3 linked regions of the Homo sapiens genome follow. The protein of the gene in region 1 interacts with the protein of each later gene in a biochemical or structural test. Each region holds a gene or a part of one and is shown in the gene's direction. Other genes may lie near its edges.

Evidence for each region.
Region 2: the proteins of NOD1 (region 1) and RIPK2 form a complex in vitro, tested with the Homo sapiens proteins (one study listed by BioGRID).
Region 3: the proteins of NOD1 (region 1) and RNF34 form a complex in vitro, tested with the Homo sapiens proteins (one study listed by BioGRID).

Annotation. Positions count from the first base shown.
Region 1 is NC_000007.14:30,457,970-30,461,799, reverse strand, and holds part of NOD1 (nucleotide-binding oligomerization domain-containing protein 1), read left to right. Parts: intron 1-1,758; 5' UTR 1,759-1,899; intron 1,900-2,559; 5' UTR 2,560-2,648; intron 2,649-3,830. UniProt on the Homo sapiens protein: Pattern recognition receptor (PRR) that detects bacterial peptidoglycan fragments and other danger signals and thus participates in both innate and adaptive immune responses.
Region 2 is NC_000008.11:89,767,758-89,771,587, forward strand, and holds part of RIPK2 (receptor-interacting serine/threonine-protein kinase 2), read left to right. Parts: intron 1-2,014; coding exon 2,015-2,172; intron 2,173-3,830.
Region 3 is NC_000012.12:121,410,118-121,413,717, forward strand, and holds part of RNF34 (E3 ubiquitin-protein ligase RNF34), read left to right. Parts: intron 1-3,600. UniProt on the Homo sapiens protein: E3 ubiquitin-protein ligase that regulates several biological processes through the ubiquitin-mediated proteasomal degradation of various target proteins.

The DNA of each region.
Region 1 (3,830 bases):
GCCACTGCACTCCCGCCTGGGTGACAGAGCGAGACTCCGTCTCAACAACAACAACAACAACAACAAAGATCATTCCTGGCATCAGTATTTCAAATGGAAGGGCAGCAGGCAGGAACTCTGATGTCTCAACACCCTAGCTTTTAGTGATTGCCCTGGAGTGGCACTGTCCACTTGAGTAGCCCCTGGCCGCATGTGGCTCTTGAGCACTGGAAATGTGGTTGATCCAAACTGAGATGTGCGATTAAAACACATGCCAGGTTTCCAAGCCATAGTATGAAGAAAAAGAATGTAAACTATCTCATTAATAAATTTTTTGTTGATGGGCTGGGTGCAGTGGCTCACACCTGTAATCCCAGCACTTTGGGAGGCTGAGGTGGGAGGATCACTTGAGGCCAGGAGTTCAAGACCAGCCTGGGCAATATGATGAAACCCTGTCTCTACTAAAAATACAAAAAGTAGCCAGGCATGGGGGTGTGCACCTGTAATCCCAGCTACTTAGGAGGCGGAGGCAGGAGAATTGCTTGAACCTGGGAGGCGGAGGCTGCAGTGAGCCGAGATTGCGCCACCGCACTCCAGCCTGGGCGACAGAGTGAGTGAGACTTCATCTCAAAAAATAATAATAAATAAATTTTGTATGGATGACATACTGAAATATTTTGAGTGTATTAGAATTAAAATATATCATTGAAATTAATTTCACCTGTCCATTTTTACTTTTATTAGTGTGGCTATTAGAAAGTTTTAAATTACTAGGAAAGCTGTGTCATATTTCAATTCAACAGAGCTGCTCTATGGTCTCCTTTTTCCCTTTGAAGATCCGCCATCCTGCAATCCCTGCTTCCTTTTCACCAGAGCAGCTTCCCTGAATCTTCTCCTGGAGGCTCTGCAGACCTTTTCTTTAGTTTGGAAGATCACATTGCAGGAGGGGACTTGGGCACTGGTTTCTGTGAGGAGCCCGGAGTGGTGAATTGCCCCTGGGATTCCCTTACCCTGGAAACTAACCCTCTCTGAGGGCAGAAAGCTAGAAAGAAGAGCGGTTGAGAGGAAATGCCTGTGCAACCCCCAGCTCCCTTCGGGGCTCCCTCACTGCCCACAGGCTCTACCCCCACCTGCCTTTGCCTCAGGAGATGGCTTTTGGTGGTGGACTCACCCTCCTCCGATCTCCTCTGCTTCATTTTTCCACTTGGTGATCCATCTTTTGTTCTGCGGTGTGTCCTGTTTTCTGGCTGCCTCCATTAGCTTGGTTTTTTCCTTTGGGTATCCCTGGAGCTGTCTTACCAGGATCTCCAACTTCAGTCCCCATTGGTCTGCACCACTGGCCTGGGAAAGCTCCACCCAGGAGAGCAGACCCAGCTCCCAGATACCTGGCCCCAGCCCAATCTCCGTCCTCTCTTTGCCTGGAAGAGAGGACCAGACCGTCTTCATCAACTGGACCCACCCTTTACCAAGCAAAGAAAGGAAAGGATTGCCCCCCAGGGCCAGCAGATCTCTGGCTGTCTGGTGTTTCTGGTAATAAGTGCCCATGAACTTCGAATTGATCTCCAGTCTCCCATGGTATGGTTTTGGTCTACCCTTAGATTCTGTTTACCAAGGCAGAGTTCAGTTTCTCTGCTTTCCCTTCCAACATCCATACCTTGTTAAGTTCTTGCTGAATTGAGCTAACTCTGCACACCTGATTAAATCTTCAGCCAGGGCTCTGGACATTATAAAGCAGCCTCCTTGCCAGATGGCTGTCATATAATATATTGCTTTATTTAGGTGATTGTAAGTCAGGAGACTTTCCTTCGGTTTCTGCCTTTGATGGCAAGAGGTGGAGATTGTGGCGGCGATTACAGAAAACATCTGGGAAGACAAGTTGCTGTTTTTATGGGAATCGCAGGCTTGGAAGAGACAGAAGCAGTGAGTAAAACGGGCCCCTCGTGGTAGGCGGGCAAAGGTCGGGAAAGGAGGGATGAAGGAAGCTGTGCAACACCCCTTCCCAGCTTTCTAAAGAATGGAGCATGGCATTGCAAAATGCTGAATCACAAAGTGAGAAGTGACTTCTTTCCAGTTTTCTCTCAGCCTTGTGATGATCTTAAAGAGAAAGTCTCAATTCTGTGCTACTGTGTCTTTAACATCTCTCAAATGCTTCCGAGAGAAAACAGGCCCCAACCCTGGAGCCTTTCCAGGCAGCAGGACTAGCTGGAATACAGTAACATTGTGGTATTTCTGGTGAATTAATTTTTGTGTTACTTTCTATGTATTGCAAAGGATATTTTTTTTCTGTTTCTAATGGTGACATTACATTCCTTTAAAATTATTAGAGTTTTCAAAACTCAATTGAAAGCAAAAGGTTAAGCAAATAAAGGACAGGTGTGACTCAATTATGGCAAGAACAACAAAAAAGTGACTATGGTGGGGACGTTGAACATTTAGAAAACACTGTCCTAAAAGAAGAAGGTACAGAGAGTAGTCTGATACCTGGGAGTACTAGATTTTAAAATTATTCTCTTGCCAATTTTATTCATTCATTCACCATGTGCCACAATAATTTTTTTAAGTCTTTCTTTGATTTTGCAGATTCCAGAAATAAATTGGAAATTGAAGATTTAAACAATGTTGTTTTAAAATATTCTAACTTCAAAGAATGATGCCAGAAACTTAAAAAGGTATTATTAACTGCTAATTTAAATTTAATATTGTCAGCTGGTATGCTTTAAATGAACCGATTTTCTAAAGCTAAGGATCCTAAAGTGGGTCATAGAATTGACTGCCATGGAAAATAGCCGGGTGTGGTGGCTCACACCTGTAATCCAAGCACTTTGGGAGGCCGAGGTGGGCAGATCACTTGAGGTCAGGAGTTCAAGACCAGCTTGGCCAACGTGGTGAAACCCTGTCTCTACTAAAAATACAAAAATTAGCTGGGCATGGTGGCACCCGCCTGTAGTTCTAGCTACTCGGGTGGCTGATGCAGGAGAATTGCTTGAGCTCAGGAGGCAGATGTTGCAGTGAGCCGAGATTGTGCCACTGCACTCCAGCCTGAGCCACACAGTGGGACTCTGTCAAAAAAAAAAAAAAAAGAAAAGGCTGGATTAGTATTTAATAACTTTTATTGGAACAATAACTAATATTTTCATACCTTTAAATTTTTTTGGTGAGGATCTCTTGCCCTTCTGTTGCTGATAATTTTAAATTTTACTCTTTCCTGCTCTATCATTTGGATTCTAAAAAGAAAGCTATTGTGTGGGGTCTGGCATTTGATAGGTTAAAAAAAGAAAACATAGAAGCATGTCAAAGAGCAGGAGACTCATGTGCCACTTGGTGGAAAAAAAATTGAGAACCACTGGACCTGAATGTTAACAGATGTGGCTTGTGAAACATATTAATGATGTGGATAGTGTTAAAAGATCTATGAGCTTTTTTTTGAACTACAAAAAAACCTTTTTTTTACTCTCTCTCTGAAATGCATGAGTTTTCCTGCCTAGACAAACGACAAAGTGGCCAATTCCAGGCCTTTCCACTTCCAAGATCATTTTACACACGCAAGTATTCCTGGACAAGAAGAGGCTGAAGGATCTTCTGTGGGATTTTTTTAAAAAATTATTATTTTTTGCTGTTATTGTTACAAGGAAGGTAGTGAGTGCAATTTTGGGATAACTCAGATGAACCCAAATGTTTTTTAATGCCCAAATAAAATAGCCTGGGTCCCTGTTCCTACCCAGACAAGAAACTCAGCACTTGTACCAGGTTTTCAAGGGTTTCCAGAGAGATACCTCTCTTGGGAATCTAATCCCAGGAACTCTGTGCCGGCTCTCCCTCTTCCTCCTGCCCCTCTGCCCTCCCTCTGTCCC
Region 2 (3,830 bases), on another chromosome or scaffold:
TGTGATAAACAGAATAAATCCAATTTAGTTACTTCAGCAAGACAGCCCTTTCAATATTTGAAGATAGCTATGAGCTGTCTCCCAAACCCTCACGTACAAGTGCATTTTATCCATCTCCCTGATAAATACCCTTTAGTTCCTTCAACTCGTTTTCTTATTACATGGATTTTAATCCTTGGTGCTATGTAGATGCATCATTTTGTTTAAATCTCACTTAAATGTTGATCGTCAGAACTGAACACAATACTATTTTTGGTGCGGTTTGATGAATGCAGACTTTAGTGAAAGTGTCATTTCCTTGGCCCTAAATACTTAATAGTTCCTTAATAATTCATCAGCTTTCCAGGGGTAGTCATATCACATAGTTCAAATTGGGCTTAGTGTCAACAAAAAACCCTTGGAGGTTCTTTTTGCCACGTATCGTTGCTTAAGCCACCTCTTCTTAAGCAACAAAGTACACAAAATAATGTACTTTGCAGAATACTTTCTAGATATGATCAAATTTTATCTTGTTAGATTGGAGCAATTGCTTCAGTCTCTTAAGACCTTTTTGAATGTTATTTCTATAATCCAAAGGTTTTAAGTTTCTCTCCAAGTTTTGTGTGATGCTGAAATTTAATTAGCTAATTTTTTGTATCTTTAAGTCATGATTAAATATGAACCAGTACAGAGCTTGAATCAGAGCTGTATCACATGGCCATAAGAACCTTCATCTGGGTCAATATCAGTCCTTTTGTTAATCCGCGCTTTTGGAGAACACTCATTCAGTTTGTCTGGAATACTCCTAAAAGTGCTATTATACAGCCCATATTTCTTCATTCTGTCCTTAAAAATTTTTCTGAAAGTCTTTGCTTAACTGCTTTTCTCAGCTGTTCTCATGACTTAGTCATCTTGGTCCTTTTCTGTGAATTCAATTTTAAAATTCTTGATTATTTTTATTTTTTTTCTTAAATTGACTCTTTTATTGTAGCAAATGAATGAAAAATTCATTTATTCTACCCCTCCTTTTTGGGAATGGAGGCCATAATTTTTTTTATCTCAAATTCATCTAAATGCTAATAAAAATTATGTATTTTGTTAAAATTGGTAAAAAATATAGGAGGTAAACAATGGAAACAAATGATGTGCTGCATGGAGCTCATTTCACTCTGCTGAATTCTAAAGTATGCAGTAAAATATTTTAAGTAATTTCAGTGTCTTTTAGGATTTCCCATACTCCCTTGTCAATTAAATATTATTTCTGTTCTTACATTTTGTCTTACATTTTTAAAAAATAAAGTAAAAAATAAGGAAGCTTTTAAATATTTAGTTATAAGATACTGTATAATATGTGCATAAGATTTACAACTGAAGCAAAACTGTACAGGACATATCAAAGGCACAGAATATTGTCACTGATAATTCTTTAGGCACCCATTGTATTGGACATAAATATGTTTTCTTTGCAATTATACTGTTTCCATGAAATACTTCTTTTAGTGATCAGCATAAAATTGTATAATAATTACCTTTACAATTTTGAGATTTAGTGTATTTCTTAATTTAAGGATGCTACCTTTAGGGCATTATTAATACAACTGTATAAACCAGAATTGTAAACAATGACCAGTGACAATTGCATGAGATGTGAGTAGACTTGGCAGCTCTGTGAGATGTAGGAAGCACATGGTATCAAGCTATATGTCATGAAAAGTAAGGTGTGCAAGGTACACACTCATTGAGAATATCAGACAAAAAATGCCTCTGCTCAATTTTCAAAAATTAGTCTCTCTTTTGAAATTTGTAATGTTATATTAAACTTTAACTCAGTATGTATTGCTCCTAGAGTTATTTGGCTCAGCAGTGTGGAATTTAATTTTGTAAGAAGTTGGGGGAATATACAGAAATAAAATATTAAAATATATTACATTTTCTCTGGTTTGATATCTAAATACAGTGAATATACAAAAAGATAGTTGACTTTTGGACTTTTTAAAGAGGAAATTTCTTAATTATTTGCTCTTGTCCCTTACAGATTGCAGATTTTGGTTTATCAAAGTGGCGCATGATGTCCCTCTCACAGTCACGAAGTAGCAAATCTGCACCAGAAGGAGGGACAATTATCTATATGCCACCTGAAAACTATGAACCTGGACAAAAATCAAGGGCCAGTATCAAGCACGATATATATAGGTAGAGTAAAGTTGCTTCTGCTCAGATTTAACCTTGTCTCAGACACAAAATTAGTCAACCAGAATTTTGAAGCTACATTTTAAACTGTGATTTTTATTCTTCTCTCATAATTGTGGTGAAAATAAACTTGAGGCCCCACGGTGATTAATATTTTTCAAATTAAGGAAATTTAATGATTTGCTTTAAGAAACTTTTACATCCTTTAAGAAATTTTAAAGCATCTCTTCTTATCCTATCAATTTATAATATAATAGTTAAGGATTTTTATCATATGTGACTTGGAAATGCAGAGGGAAACAGTGGTTCCTAACATTTTAGCTTTAGGTTTCTCAACCTGTTCAACCTTTTAGCTTTTGATATCTATATATCTTTTTAGATAAATAGACAAACTCTTAATCACACTGGGGATATTTCTATTTAAAGAATCCCTAATATTTGTATATGTGTGAATTTTTTATACAACAAATCAATGGGTTTGATAAGATCATATTTTCATATTTCAGATGCATATTACTTATAATCTCATAATGCAGTAATAAGCATAACACATTGTTATTGACACTGGTTATTTAACCAGAATAAAAGGAAGATGATTATTTACACAGGTTTAGGAGATGGGGACATTCACCTCATGTATAAGTTACTCTTATCTCTTTTAATATACTAATGAATGCAAAAGCAGACTCTCTAAGTTTGCTCTGAACACATTTTATAGTCCTTTAAATGGCTTTTTGCCATCTTTAATAAATAATTTGTTAATGAATCATTTTAGGAATGAATGCTATATCTCTACCAGAAAACTATATATTTAATTAAATTGCATATTCCTTTTCTTCAAAAGCATTTTAATTTTTGTTATTTCTCATTAAAACCAAAGCCAGCCAATCCATTTTAGTGGCTGCACTAAAACAATTCATACAGTGTCTTTTACATTCACATTGTATGAATATAAGAAACTGTCCTTTTATATTTTGTTTTCTGATATTTTTAATTCATTCTGAATGATGTACTGAGGGGAGGAGAAATGTATTTATAGCTTCCTAAGGTAGAGATCATGTTCTACCCAACAATTCTTAAAGCTGGTTTGATTCTATAAAAATGGGCCAATAAATCTGCCAGTCATTCATTTTGTGAATTTTCCCTTTATGTTCAATTTCAATATTCTCTGTCAGGGAAAAATGAGGAAATATTATTCCTTCATTTGGGTAGGAATTCCCTCTGTACTCCTCGCTCTCCCTGTAACACAAGGTGTTAGTAGTAATAAATTCTATGTGTCCATTTTGAATGCATGGTTAATGTTGGGGTGTGGCAAAATTCTTATATCCTATTTAACCATTTATTCTAATTATAAACTCTATGCAGCTTAACCCTGTAATTGACATCTGAAGTTAAACTGTAGGCAAGATATTTCTACTACCAAAGAAGATAGTGCTGAGAGCAGAAAAAAGGCAGTAGAATAGAGCTCCATGAGACAATTTTTTTCTTGTTCTTTGTTCTTTGTGAAAAATAATATCATTTAATTAAAGGGCATAGCTTATCTGGGTGTCCAAGAATTAAATCATCCACAAAAAGTTAATCTTGCATGTAACGTTAAGCTTGTATTACAGTAATTTCCTAATTTTTTAACTTAAAGTTGATTTTGTTTCCAAACTACATGA
Region 3 (3,600 bases), on another chromosome or scaffold:
CACTCCAACCTGGGCAACAAGAGCGAAACTCCGTCTCAAAAAAAAAGAAAAGGAATTATGTTCATTTCAGCACTGGGATGCCAGGAAATATGGGGCTTAAAGGGGAGATGGAAATTAAAATTTTCAAATATGCTGCATGGGGCTGGCGTGGTGGCTCATGCCTGTAATCCCAGCTCTTTGGGAGGCTGAGGCAGGCGGATTACGAGGTCAGGAGTTCGAGACCAGCCTGGACAACATGGTGAAACCCCGTCTCTACTAAAAATACAAAAATTAGCCGGGTGTGGTGGTGGGTGCCTGTAATCCCGGCTACTTGGGAGGCTGAAGCAGGAGAATTGCTTGAACCCGGGAGGCAGAGGTTGCAGTGAGCCGAGATTGCGCCACTGCATTCCATCCTGGGCAACAGAGCAAGATTCTGTCTCAAAACCACCAAAAAAAAAAAAATGCTGGATGGGAAAAAAAAAAATACTTCAAATATACTAGTGACAGGGGCTTCCCCTGCTTCAAATTTCTGAACTTTCCAGAAGGCTGGAGTGTTGCAAATGCTCCTCTCAGAGATGATAACTATAAGTGGATTTGCCCTTCAATATGATGCTAAGGTTATTCTCTCACTGGGAGATCATGTTCTCATTGGAAGATTTTGCCCAAATTTAAGTTCAGAGATTCTAATGAGGCTGCAACCTAAATTTTTCAGGATTGCTTCTTTACCTTCTATTCCTGTAGTATTTGGCTGACAGTAGTTAATATGTGTCTGAGTTGTACTGAATATTGGGTTATAGCAACATTTTTGCCTGGGACACTTTGGAGGTTGGCTTGGGCTTTTTTGTTGTTTGTTTTTGAGACAGGGTCTCACTCCGTCACCCAGGCTGGAGTGCGGTGGCGTAAGCATAGCTCACCATAGTCTCAACCTCCCAGGCTCAAGAGATCCTTTTGCCTCAGCCTCCGAGTAGCTGGGAGCACAGGCACATGCCACCACACCTGGCTAATTTTATTTTTTGTAGAGATAGAGTCTCCCTATGTTGCCCAGGCTGGTCTTGACCTGGCCTCAAACAATCCTCCCACCTTGGCCACCTAAAGTGCTGGGATTACAGGTGTGAGCCACCATTCCTGGCCTGTTTTTAATTTTTTATTTTATAATGAGGGCTAAATTAAGTGTTTTTCTTCATTTTCTTTCTGGGGAACAAAGAGGAAATTCCCTTCCTTGTATAGAAACGTGAGGAATGGGACAAAATTGTCCCCCTCCAAAATTGGTATCTACACAGAGAATCCATCTGTTTTCCCAAAATAAGTCCTTCTATTCCCTTTACCAGAGCTGTGTAGTTGAAAAAAAAATTTTCAGCCTAGAATTTTAATGCTCATACTCATTAACATGGTTTGAAAAATTGTATTCTTCCCTAATTCATTGTAAAACTATCCCTGATACAAAGGTCATAATCTCTGACAGTGCTGCTTTTAAAAAGGGGTGTCATTTGAGATTTTTGGTTTTCTTTACCAAGAAAACATATTTTGAACTTTCTAAATAGCATGTAAAATTTTATAATGTTACATTGTCTGTGAAGAGATAATAGGAATTTTTTACACAGTTACTTGTCAGTCATACCATGGTGGAAAGAGGAGCAGGAGAAAAAGAAGTTTTTGTCCATGAGGAACTTTCACTGTAGTCCAGGAGGCAACATCAGACATGAATTAGAAGGGGGATAAAAGCTAAGAGAGCTGTTGGTTTAGTAGCTACATTAGTAGGAAGCTAAACTTGTAAAACTGCACTTCTGTTAACCCTGGAATGAAGAGAAGTTTATCCTGGGAGTACTTTCTGCAGTTGAGGTATTTTTTTCCCCAAAAAATGTAACGTGCAAACTAAATTTTTTAGAACAAAGTTTTTCCAGTTTTAAGAGTGCATACTCTAAAGAACTGTGGATGAATCCTTTACTTAAAAGAACATTAACTTTATTATTATTAATTTTTTTTGAGATGGAGTCTCGCTCTGTCACCCAGGCTGGAGTGCAGTGGCGCAATCTTGGCTCACTGCAAACTCCGCCTCCTGGGTTCAAGCGATTCTCCTGCCTCAGCCTCCCGACTAGCTGGGACTACAGGCACGTGCCACCATGCCCAACTAATCTTTTTTTTTTTTTTTTTTTTTTTTTTTGAGATGGAGTCCCGCTCTGTTGCCCAGGCTGGAGTACAGTGGCGCAATCTCGGCTCACTGCAAGCTCTGCCTCCCGGGTTCACGCCATTCTCCCACCTTAGCCTCCCGAGTAGCTGGGACTACAGGTGCCCGCCACCACGCCAGGCTAATTTTGTTTTTGTTTTTTTAGTAGAGATGGGGTTTCACCGTGTCAGCCAGGATGGTCTTGATCTCCTGACCTCATGATCTGCCTGCCTTGTCCTCCCAAACTGCTAGGATTACAGGGGTGAGCCACCACGCCTGGCCTAATTTTTGTGTTTTTAGTAGAGATGGGGTTTTGCCATGTTGGTCAGTCCAGTCTCGAACTCCTGACTTCATGTGATCCACCCGCCTTGGCCTCCCAAAGTGATGAGATTACAGATGTGAGCCATTGTGCCTGGCTGAACACTAACTTTAAATTAACTCTTAGTGAATCTAGATGTTCATGCTTTTTTTTTTTTTTTTTTGAGATGGAGTCTCGCTGTGTCACCCAGGCTGGAGTGCAGTGGCGTGATCTCGGCTCACTGCAACCTCTGCCTCCTGGGTTCAAGTAATTCTCCTGCCTTAGCCTCCCAAGTAGCTGGGATTACAGGTGCCTGGGCCAGCTATTTTTGTATTTTTAGTAGAGACGGGGTTTCACCATGTTGGCCAGGCTGGTCTCGAACTCTTGACCTCATGATCTGCTCCCCCACCTCTGCCTCCCAAAGTGCTGGGATTACAGGCATGAGCCATTGTGCCCAGGCTATTTTTTTTTTCCTTCCTCTTTTCGAGGCAGAGTCTCACTCTGTCACCCAAGCTGGAGTGCAATGGTGCGATCTAGGCTCACTGCAACCTCCGCCTCCCCGGTTCAAGCGATTCTCCTGCCTCGGCCTTCCAAGTAGCTGGGATTACAGGCATCTGCCAATACGCCCAGCTAATTTTTTGTATTTTTAGTAGAGACGGCGTTTCGCCATGTTGTCCAGGCTGTTCTTGAACTCCTGACCTCAGGAGATCCACCTTCCTTGGCCTCCCAAAGTGCTGGGATTACAGGCATAAGCCACTGAGCCTGGCCAGATTTTCATGCTTTTAAGCACACCATGGCTGTAGAGTTTGAGGTATATAATCATTTAAAGGTATGGACTGTTATAATTTTACCTGTCCTTTTTTTTTTTTTTGAGACGGAGTTTTGCTCTTTTGCCCAAGCTGGAGTGCGGTGGCACAATCTTGGTTCACTGCACCCTCCGCCTCCTGGGTTCAAGCGATTCTCCTGCCTCAGCCTCCCGAGTAGCTGGGATTACAGAAGCCTGCCACCATGCCCAGCTTTTTTTTTTTTTTTTTTTTGAGATGGAGTCTCGCTTTGTTGCCCAGGCTGGAGTGCAGTGGTGCTATCTGGGCTCACTGCAAGCTCCGCCTCCCGGGTTCACGCCATTCTCCTGCCTCAGCCTCCCGAGTAGCTGGGACTA